Linked DNA regions of Homo sapiens. The protein of the gene in region 2 purifies or fractionates together with the protein of the main gene of each other region. This does not show direct contact. Each region holds a gene or a part of one and is shown on either strand. Other genes may lie near its edges. The genes, in order: SPSB4, ZFPM2 and SPSB1.

Region 1 (3,651 bases), on a different chromosome or scaffold from region 2:
GTTTTCTCACCACTGGGATTTGCCTGGTCACTATGTCTCAGAAGGCTCCAGACACTTTCCACAAGGCACTGTGATGACTAAATTAGCCCTTCTCAGGGACATAATCATCAGTTCCTAGATTTAACCCATTAAACAGAGAAAATGGAACAACATTTTGCCATTCAATGGCAATTGTAGGCAACAACCACGGAAATAAAATATGAGCAAGAATGTCGACAATTATGCCAGAGTGCTGAGCATACCAGCAGCCACTTTTCCATTAGCCTGCCACCCTTGGAAACCATCAAATGTCCCCTTCCTGTGCTCCAGTAAATGTAAATTTTGCTTGAGTAAAATCTTGTCCTTGACTTCTTTTCTGGAGAAGTGTTACTCTTTTCTGGAGTGTTACTCTCAGTCCCTCATCTAAAGGGGAGAACATAGGAAACGAGTGGACTTCAGGGCCATCAGAACTGGGGGGAACCCTGATTCTGGCTCTCTGTAGCTCTGCTCTTAAGTTTTCTTATTTCTAAAAGGAGGATCTGCCTCAGGGGCTGGTAATTACATCTCTTATTTAGAATGAATAAACTGGAAATTCTAGCTTTCAGCGCCACCTCTGAGAGCTTCATTGGGGTGTGGCAGGAAGTCTGGATTGGTGCTAGTGGGCTGATGTTGGGGAGTGTGCAAGCCCACAAGTGCCTGGCTCCTGGCCCCTCAGCTGGGATTCAACTCAGGACAGGCAGCCACGTGTGCCTCTGTCCAGAGGCCACCCTGTCTCCCTGAGTGACTCCCTCCCAAAACCAATAACCGTCTTTGTTCCTACACTTTTTATCTTGCCGGATGGTTGTGTATATTAAATGAGAGGAAGCCATAGAGTTGTCAGGGGTCAACCCCAGCAGCTTGTGGGCTGGTTTGTAGCCTGCAAGGGTATTTTGTTTGCCCATATAGACTTTTCAGCAGCTGTCAACTTTAAAAATTGGAACAGTTCACACAAGCTAGATTTCTGGGCTCTCTTGGAAAAAGTCACAAGATTCCACAACCCAGGGTTTTCATTCCCGTGAGATGACAGTCGGCTGGAGATAAGAGGCAGCTGTCCCCTTTAATAGTTGGCCCATAAGCGCTGGAATTGGGGTGTTCAGCCTCTCAAATACAGTAGATGGCCAATAAAGGACGGTTATCAGTACTTATTACTTATCAATAACTTGAGTACATGGCATTTAAGTGCAGGGACTGGGGACTTGTCACTGTCTTCCCATTGTGACTAGCTTGGGTCATTTGGTACAACCTTTGTACAGACTGGAAGATTGGTAATTGGCATCAACACTCAAAGCCCCTGTTGGGTGCCAGTCACTGTTCTGAGCACTTCACACATGTTATCTAGATCTTCACAACTGTGAGCTAGATTACTATTACTTTATTTGATCGTTACAACTGTGAGCTAGATTACTATCATCGTGATGCTTTTGCCGATGGGAGAACTAAGGCACAGCCCCAAATCACCAAGCCAGCAGAGAGTCAGGATTGAAACCCAGGTCCTGACCATTCCTCCACATTGCAGGATCCTCCCAAGTGGCGATGGAGGTGTGGCCTGCCCAGCTTCCCTAGGGCCTGGCAGCCTCTGAAAGCCCTGCCCCCCAGCCCAGCACAACTTACGGTCAAGGCCGTTGATGTAGCGCATGGTGACTTCACAGTGGCCCCACACGGCACTCACCACCGGGTACAGCTTCTTGCCCTTGAGACCTCGGAAGGCCACGCCCAGGTACTGGCCATCCACGATGAAGCTGAGTGTGCCCTCATCCATGTCCAGCACCACGAGCAGCGAGTCGGGCAGCGCAAAGGCCTCGTCGGGCCCCAGAAAGGCCGGGTAGGCCACGCCGGGCTGGTTCTTGCCGTCGTGGTAGAGGCGGCTGCGGCCCAGGTCCCAGCCCCACGACTCGGCGTCACTGCCTACCAGCGCCGTGTAGCCCACGGAGTGCAGGGGAGCACGGGCCGTGGCCACACCAACTACAGCGTGGGTGCCGCGCTGCCGAGCCGGCCAGTTGATCTGCCAGGCGTGCAGGCCGCGGGCGTGGCCCACCTTGCCGCGGATGCCGTCGGTGCTCTGGGCCACGGGGTGCCGGTGGAAGGTGAGCCGGTCGTCGTCCTTGACGAAGACGTTGAGCGAGCGGTCCTCGGGGTTCCACGCGTGCCGCAGCTGCACAGCCAGCCCCGCCGCTGGCATGTCCAACAGCTGGTCCAGCCGCGCCGGCCGCCCGGGCTCTGCACCCCGCAGCTCCCGCTTGGCCGGCCGCAGCGCCGGCTCTCGCACCTCCACTGACTTGAGGCTCCCCGAGAGCTTCTGGCCCATGCTTCACTGCGGGGAGGAGGCCGCTGCAGGCCACCGCTACCTCGTGGGAGCCTCCACTCCCCGTAGCCAGGAATGGGCCACGGGGCTGGGAACCAGGCTTCCGGACGGTAGACCTCCACAGCCTCTACCGGGCTGCGGCAGGGGCCCAAGCTCCTGGAAGGAAGCAAAGGGCACGGGTTATAGCAGCAGCATCAGCAGCCAGTTGCCAATCCCTTCATTTATGTCCATGCCTTGGCTGAGCCCTTTGCATGCACAATAATAGTAATAATTCGTACACTCATATCTGGCACTAATCTAGCACCTGCCATATGCCAGTGTTCTAAATTATTTATGTTTATTAGTTTGTTTAATCCTTAACATCTCCCTATAAGAGATATACATTATTATTCACAATTTACAGATGAGAACACTGAAGTCAGAGAGAGGATAAGCGATTAGCCGAAGTCCCACTGCAAATAAGTGACTGAGCCAAGATTCAAACCAAGGTCATCTGGCTTCAGGGTCTGTGTTCCGGACCTAGAACAATCATAGGGAGTCTGATTTTAGAAATAAGGCGTGAGCCCAGAGCAGTTGTGACTTGCTCAAGGTCAGAGCCTGGATGAGAACCCAGGTGCTTTTGATCCCAGGGGACAAGCCTTGTGCCAAGGCTGGGGGGCACACAGCTGCTCAAGACACAGGGCTGTAGGGTGTGGCCCATTGGTTCCCAACCCTGGAGTCCTGGGGAGCCTAAATAACCTCCTAAAATGTAGCCAGGCTTGAGCGGCAAGACACAGAACAAGGTGCAGCAGGGTCACCAGGGACATGGACATCAGGCAGCGTGGGAAGATGGGGTGAGAGCTCCATGGGAAGGTGAATGGAGGTCAATAGAGGTGAGGAGGAAGGATAAGGGAGCCGGTGTCCAGGCTCTGGAGCCAGACAGAACTGCGTCCAAATCCCTCTCTCCATCTCCTACTGTGGGTCCACAGGAAAGCCTCCTAGCCTCTTGGATACTCCAGATTTCTTGCCAGTAAAAAACATGAGGATAAAACACCTCCCTCTGGTGATGGGGGAACTTGAGAGACCATAATATAAAGGGTCCTGGAACTCTGCCGACAGGTTTTCCTCTCTGGCTCTGTTCTCTGGGCATCCCATGTGGATCCCCTCCCTTTGGATGGGTGAGCTCTTTGTTCGATCAGGTAAATACCATTAACAGCACTGACCCCAGACTGCCTTCCCTGAGACAGGATCCTGGTTTTCATGGAGAAGGAATTGGCCACCATCACTAGGAAACCAGACAGAACCCAAGGAGCTCGGACTACTTGGACGGGCCCTGGGTATGGAGAGAGATG
Region 2 (3,651 bases):
ACCAGGTGCAGTATTGCTACTCTTATATTTAAATAGATCTTATATATGAATTAAATTCATACTTGCAGCATTGAGTTTAGGGTTTCGATTTAGACTGTGCCTTTCAAAAGATAAAACTGATTAATACTACCTCATTACTTACAATACTGCTTCCAGTAATTTTGTTCATTCTTTATAAAGTATTGCATTTAACAGCAAAGGTTTAAAAATTGAGACAGAGCTGCATCAGCGAAAGAAAATACAAGTACTATACAAGAAAAAAATTGCCATCTTCATTTAACATACAGGTTCAGGATTAAGAAAATGGACGGAAACATACAGCTACATACAAATGCAAAGCCTAGTGACTAAGAGACTGTATCTGCTAAAATATAAAGTGCAAACAGAGCCTGATTATCCAAGAATTGAAATCTTAAGGCGAACTTATAGCATGTGTATTTAGAACATCTTTGCAAGTTATATTTTAGCATATACATATATCTGCAACAGCATATAAGAAAAAATCAAGATACACAAGTGCTTTTGAAGCTATTTCTAAAATGCTTTTCTGTATTGTGACTATTTTCTTTAAAAGCTACTATACAGTGCAAACCATATGTGCTACACAATAACTATACAATAACATTACAAATGACTTTAATATAAAGTTTTTAAATAAAAAATAACATAACCACAGCTATGAATACTGCTGGTAAAATAAATTAATTTTTTTGAAAATGGCACCAATAATACACTTTACTAATGGACTGTAATGAAATTACACCTTAAGTCTTCAACTCAGCCATAATGAATTATCTCCTGATTGCCCAGATGTAATTCAAACAGCTTATTTTTTTTTCTGGACTGGTTAGAACAACATACTAAACACTGATACCAAAGGTGACTGATGTTTAGTTAGTTCATTTGACATGTTCTGCTGCATGTGATGAGCAATAAAACTTCTTGTGAGTTATAAAGTTTGAAAGGTTGTTGAACTGGATATCACATAGCCGGCAATATTTCCCACTGGTTGGAGCCTGGCTGGAACCATTCACACCTTTTGCTATACTAGACAACTGTTCCTCTGCTGAGGGAATTCCTGGTGAGACATTCTCATTGGCAGCTAATGGGTTCTCAGAGATCCACGAGGGAGATTTGTGGTCGTCTTCGTGCTGAGGATTCTGGGAAATGTTCTCTTGCTGTGGGTTGGCAGCAGGTCTCTCATCTTGTTTCAGTCCACCATTCACTATTACCATTCCTCGATTTTTGGGCAACAATGGCAGAGAATCTTTCTTCAGCGCAGCACACCCATTTGAGGAAGCCTGGCCTTTAGGAGATTCATTTTCTGCATTTCTGCTTTGCTCGATGTCAGTGTTATGGATGACAAGAGAACCAGAAATATAATCACTTGGCTTGATTCCATAATATGGAGAAAGCTGGTCGGCTCCTTTTGCTTTCTTTATTGCTCCAGGGTAAAGGCATTGTGGAAGAAACAAATGTCTGTTTTCTTCTTTTGTAGCAATGAGCTGAGCAGCTTCACTAAAGACCTTCAAGCCTTGCAGGGTTGCTAGGTGGGATGAAAATAAGTTTCCATTGGGGGAAGGCTGCTTCAAATTCCCATTTTTCTCACATTTTATTATGCTTCTTTCGTAGCTGACATCAGGGCTGTTTCGTTCGCTTTCTGGATTCGGAAACACTTTGCCGTCCAGTTGACCCAGGTCATTACGCTGATGTGCAGTAACCGGGCAGAAATTCTGCTTGTGGGCCAGATAGTTTTCTACCTTATTGAAACTGATCTTGCACACAGTGCACTCGTGATAGTCCAGCAGCCTTTTGGGAGACGTGGTCGTCCGCTCAGACTGAGATAAACACTTTTTGCTGAGATCTATGGGCACGTCCATCTCTAGGCAGGAAACACTGGAATGAGTAGTATCACATTTGGAAACTGGAACACACTTGTTGATCGTCAGAGAAGTTTCCAAGTGTTTAGAGACAATTCCTGGAAAGATATCACATCTTGGGTGGTAGCACTCTCCTAGCCCTTCTGTGGGTTCTTGAGTGGAGGTACAAGGATTATTGAGGTTGGCTACGTCAAGAAATCTCTGCTGAACCAGTGGAGGCCTTTGTTCCTGCTCAGGTAGGCACATCTCATACATCTTTCTGCGCTTGCGTGTGCGCATGGTTCTCTGCATGGCAGGCACTTTGTTGGAAGCAGACCTCTTCAGTGGAGGGTCGTGGCGTGTAGCACAGTAATACTGTTTGTGGACCATGTATGTTTCGTGCCGGCTGAAGGTAATGTTGCAAGCTTCACAGGTAGTCTTATTTGGGTCACTTTCCCCATCCACTAAGGGGACACTGGGATTTTTCACATCAACAGGTTTTCCATTAATTTTGTCATCATTGTTACTGGAGGTGGAGAGCTTCTTAGTTTGAGTGGAAAAGTCCTTGTCATGGCCCTTCCCATTTGGCCCAATTAAATCTAAGACAGTGGAAGAATTGATGCAAGATGTTTGAAGAAGTGGATTCTCAGGATCAGCAGAATGAGCAGCTGGGTTGAGAAGGTTTATGGAGGTTTGGCCAGTGTTGGGACTCAAAGCTTCAGGCATCTTTTCTGACACACTAGGGAACTCTGGGGACTTAGCCATCTGCTGCCATCGGCTGCTGCAATAATGCTTTTTGTGCACTAGATAATTATCCAAATTATTGAATGTTATGTTACACTCAAAACAAGTAGCCCCCTTGGGCATCAAAGGGCTGTAAATGACGGGAGGGTAGCTACTACTGCCATGCCTCAGTCGCCGATGCACCAGTTCAGACATCTTAGCTAAGATCTCTGAAGCTTGAGGGACCATGGTGATATCTTGGGGGAAAGAAAACTGAGATAGGAAAGGGCCCACAGGGAAAGAAGGCCCAATATTAGGCTGAACTGGAGATGAGGCAAGTCTTGGGCTAGAGGGCTCAGACTTTATTTTTGTGTAAGAAAAGCTTTGTTTATTTGTTGTAGGCTGTATCTCTGGTCTCTGGTTCGTGAGAAAGAGCTGAGTCTTTTTCTCACACTTGTCCAGCTCTGTGTCAGAGCTCGCATCTTTAGTCTGCATGGCCTTTTGGCTCTGGGGAAGTTCGCTTCTGGTCAATAAGTCTGTGGCTGGCTGTAAGCTGTCTTCAGTTGCACTTGGAGAGTGTTCCATGTCACTTTCTCTGGGAAGTTTGCCGCTAGGGACATGGAGCTCCTGGTGCTGCAATAACTCCCTCTGAGTCTGGAAGCCGAAATGGCAGTGATTACATCGGAAGGCAGCTTGAGTGAGATGGGAGAACAGGTGTTGGTGAAAGTTGATCACGGAATCAGCAGTGTAGCTACAGACGGTGCATTTTAGACTAGCACCAGGGGGCAGGAATTCTTCCATTTTCACTCCTAGAGAGACATACAAAATAAGAACAATGAGAAACATGTGTGTTGGTTTTTGAATGACAGGGACCTTTTCTAATGACCTAATGTTTGCAACACAATAGGAATGAAATCTTTCAAAATTTCATTCGTGATATTAACTGTTTTCTTGTGACATCTCTTACTGTGTATGATAATATTAATAGCACTTTATAGTTTTCAAAGTACTTTCATGAATATTATGGCATCAAAGTGGAATAAGTGTCAGTGTCTCCATTTTATAGATG
Region 3 (3,651 bases), on a different chromosome or scaffold from region 2:
CCCCGTTCAATGGAATCACTGTTGTGTCTCCTGGTAGGAGCATTCCTCTCTCTGGAACCAAGACCTCCAGGCCAGCAGAGCATAAAGTCACAGGAACAGGAAGCAACAATTTCGCTAGCGGGTCCCTAGGGGATATGATGCGCAGTGCCACTCCCATTTCCTCCCCTTGATTCCTGGACCCGTGAATCCTGGCTACGGGAGAAACCAGCACCATATATTGGATGCTGATACAGAGTACATAGAGCCTTTTGAAGACCCCTGACCCAGCCCTACAAAGTATTGTCACCTAGCTGGCATTGTAATTGCAACTTCAAAAGACTCTACTGCCCTTCTTTCAAGTCAGCTGCTTCAGGATGGTGGGGAACGTGGTCATTCCCAGTCCCAGGTCAAAGACTCCGGAGACCACTCGTACGAGTCCCAGAGTCCAAAGGCCAGAGAACCTGGAGTTCTGACATCCAAGCGCAGGAGAAGAGCATCCCAGCTCCGGGACAGAGAGCCAGGATTCACCCTTCTTCCAGGCCCCCGGCTGACTGGATGGTGCCTGCCCACATGGAGGGCAGATCCTCCCCACCCAGTTGAGTGACTCAATTGCCAGTGTCCTCCAAAAACACCCTCACAGACACATCTGGGGCAGCCCGATCATTCTACACAATGTCAAACCACTGGGCTTCCCTGTCAGCAGAAAAGGGACAGGCTCAGTGTGTACTGAAGCATAGAGAATAATCAATGCTTTACCATCTACCTGGGTATTCCTTAATCTAGTCAAGTTGACATCCAAAATCAATCATCACAGGTCCACCCCTTACCAACTGGCACCCATAGGCACCCACTGGCATCTTCTTAAACCATACTTAATTTCCAAATAAAGGCAATAACAAGACCGTAGTTCCACTTAGCATGATAGGCGAAACCAGTGGGCTCGTGCTCACCGGCCAATTCCCTGCACATGATCCCAGTGCCACACTTCCTTGGTTGTGAAGTGAGCTCCCTGGAAGCAGTGCTACACGGACAGCGTGACAGTGGGAAAGGTGTTCTGTCAATCAATGGATGGTGACTTTGGCAGAAGCACTGTGTGCAGGGAAGACGAATCTGTATCCAGAATAAGTGCCTGCTCCAGTAAGGACAAAACGCTGCCCCTTCCAAAACAGAAGTGGTCCAATGTGCCTTCCACCAGGTGCAGTGATCATCCCGGGGAATGGGGCCATACTGGAGCTCAGTGTTAGTCTCCGCTTCTGGCAGACTAGCAGCCAGTGGTAGCCATAGCCAGGTCGGCTTTGGTGAGTGGCAGTCCATGCTGCTGAGCCCATGCATCACCTCCATCTCTGCCACCATGACCACTTTGTTCCTGAGCCCACCAGGCGATGACAGGGGTGGCCAGGGAAAGAGGCTGACGAGAATCCACCTAGGTCATCCTACCCACATACCTCATGTCCTGTGCGCACTCGGGAGGTCTATCCGTGTCCTGTGCGCACTCAGGTCTATCCACATACATCTTCCCCCAATTGCTTTTTTGTTTGGTTGGGTTTTTTGATACAGGGTCTCATTCTGTTGCCCAGGCTGGAGCAATCACAGCTCACTGCAGCCTCAACCTCCTAGGCTCAAGTGATCCTCCCACCTCAGCCTCCCAAGTAGCTGGGACTGCAGGCATGAGCTACCACGCCCAGCTAATTTTTTATTTTTGTAGAGATGGCGGGGGCGGGGAGTCTCACTATGTTGCTCAGGCTGGTCTCGAACTCCTTGGGCTCAAGCAATCCTCCCACCTTGGCCTCCCAAAGTGCTGGGATTACAGGTGTGAGCCACTATGCCAGGCCCCCAGCTTTCTTTGTCACCAATCTTCCAATCATACTCTTTCCAAGTCCCCAAATCCCTGACCATCCAGCCAAATCATCAGGCACAGCCCATGGATCAGTATATAATCACTCATCTGGCCATCTCTCCTTCGAAGCAAGGTGCACAACCAGGTGCACTGCCCGAAGCTCTGCCAGGGAGGATTTCCCTTCACCCCCATCCTTCAGAGGTGTCCCAGCAAGGGGCTATAGTGCTGCAGCTGTCCACTTTCGGGTTGTGCCTTCATATAGTGCAGAGCCATCTGTAGCCATCTGCAAACCAGGCTGACTAAGTCTTCTCTTCCACTGTCAATCGATCAGAGGGAACTCCCCAGGAGACCATAGATACAGGCTGGAGAGAGAAGGCAGTGGGCAAAGTAAGAACCATGGGCCTTTGGACCACTTCCTCATGTCACTTACTTGTGCCTTCAGGACCTGCTCAGACCTGATCCCATATATACCACTTCCTCTCGATGGCAGCGTTCTGCCACACATGCCCAATGTCTGGTTTGGTCGGTCAGATCATAGATAACACCCACTTCATGATGGGCAGCTCAGGTCACATGGCAACTTCGTGGCTGATGGTCAAACATTAAGTCTCTACTAGGGTCCAGTATTAGGCCAAGAGCTGTCTCTCAAAAGGAATGAAGTTATTTGTGGATGATGGCAGGGCCTTGCTCCAAAATCCCAAGGCCTGTACTGCGATTCATCTACAGGGGCCTGCCAAAGGCTTTAAGCAGCCTCCCTGTCTGCCGCTGACCTCAACCACCACTGGATCTGCTGGTGGCCCAAGTGGCAAAGCAGGTTGCACAGCAACCTGGACCTGTTGCAGTCTTCTGCTACGGGCCCCACTCAAAACTAGAAGCGTTAGGGTGACTCAGCAAATGGGCTGGAGTAACACACCCAAATGAGGAATGTGTTGCCTCCAAAGTCCAAACAGGCCCACGAGGCATTGTGCCTCTTTCTTGGTTGCAGGAGGAAAGCTGTAACAACTTATTCTTCACCTTAGAGGGGATACCTTCACAGGCCTGACACTACTGGACCCCGAGAAATTTCACTAAGGGAGAAGGTCCCCGAATTTCAGTAGAATTTATTTCCCATCGCTTGACATGTAAATGTCCTACCAATAAGGCTACAGTGGTTGCGACTTCTTGCTCACTAGGTCCAATGAAGCATGATGACATCAATGTAATGGACCAGCATGAGACCCTTTTTTTTTTTTTTTTTTTGAGACAGGGTCTTACTCTGTTGCCCAGGTTGGAGTAAAGTAACACAATCACTGCTCACTGCAAGTCTTGACCTCCTAGGCTCAAGCGATCCTCCCACCTCAGCCACCCAAGTAGCTGGGACCACAGGCACACACCATCATGCCTGGCTAATTTAAAAAAAAAAAAAATTTATAGAGATGATGTCGGCCCGGGCGCAGTGGCTCATGCCTGTAATCCCAGAACTTTGGGAGGCCAAGGCGGGTGAATCACTTGGTGTCAGGAGTTCAAGACCAGCCTGACCAACATAGTGAAACCCTGTCTCTACTAAATACAAAAAATTAGCTGGGTGTGGTGGCGCATGCCTGTAATCCCAGCTACTCAGGAGGCTGAAGCAGGAGAATTGCTTGAACCCGGGAGGCGGAGGTTGCAGTGAGCCGAGATTGCACCATTGCACTCCAGCCTAGGCAACAAGAGCAAAAAATCCATCTCAAAAAAAGAGAGAGAGAGAGAGAGAGATGACGTCTCACTGTGTTGCCCAGGCTGGTCTCAAACTCCTAAGTTCAAGCGATCCTCCTGCCTCGGCCTCCTGAAGTGCTAGGATTACAGGAGTGAGCCAC

What was found.
Region 1: the proteins of ZFPM2 (region 2) and SPSB4 purify together in Homo sapiens (affinity purification with western blotting; one study listed by BioGRID). This does not show direct contact.
Region 3: the proteins of ZFPM2 (region 2) and SPSB1 purify together in Homo sapiens (affinity purification with western blotting; one study listed by BioGRID). This does not show direct contact.

What each region holds. Positions count from the first base shown.
Region 1 is NC_000003.12:141,064,777-141,068,427, reverse strand, and holds part of SPSB4 (SPRY domain-containing SOCS box protein 4), read right to left. Parts: intron 2,477-3,651; 5' UTR 2,324-2,476; coding exon 1,630-2,323; intron 1-1,629. UniProt on the Homo sapiens protein: Substrate recognition component of a SCF-like ECS (Elongin BC-CUL2/5-SOCS-box protein) E3 ubiquitin-protein ligase complex which mediates the ubiquitination and subsequent proteasomal degradation of target proteins.
Region 2 is NC_000008.11:105,800,787-105,804,437, reverse strand, and holds part of ZFPM2 (zinc finger protein ZFPM2), read right to left. Parts: intron 3,392-3,651; coding exon 900-3,391; 3' UTR 1-899. UniProt on the Homo sapiens protein: Transcription regulator that plays a central role in heart morphogenesis and development of coronary vessels from epicardium, by regulating genes that are essential during cardiogenesis.
Region 3 is NC_000001.11:9,299,368-9,303,018, reverse strand, and holds part of SPSB1 (SPRY domain-containing SOCS box protein 1), read right to left. Parts: intron 1-3,651. UniProt on the Homo sapiens protein: Substrate recognition component of a SCF-like ECS (Elongin BC-CUL2/5-SOCS-box protein) E3 ubiquitin-protein ligase complex which mediates the ubiquitination and subsequent proteasomal degradation of target proteins.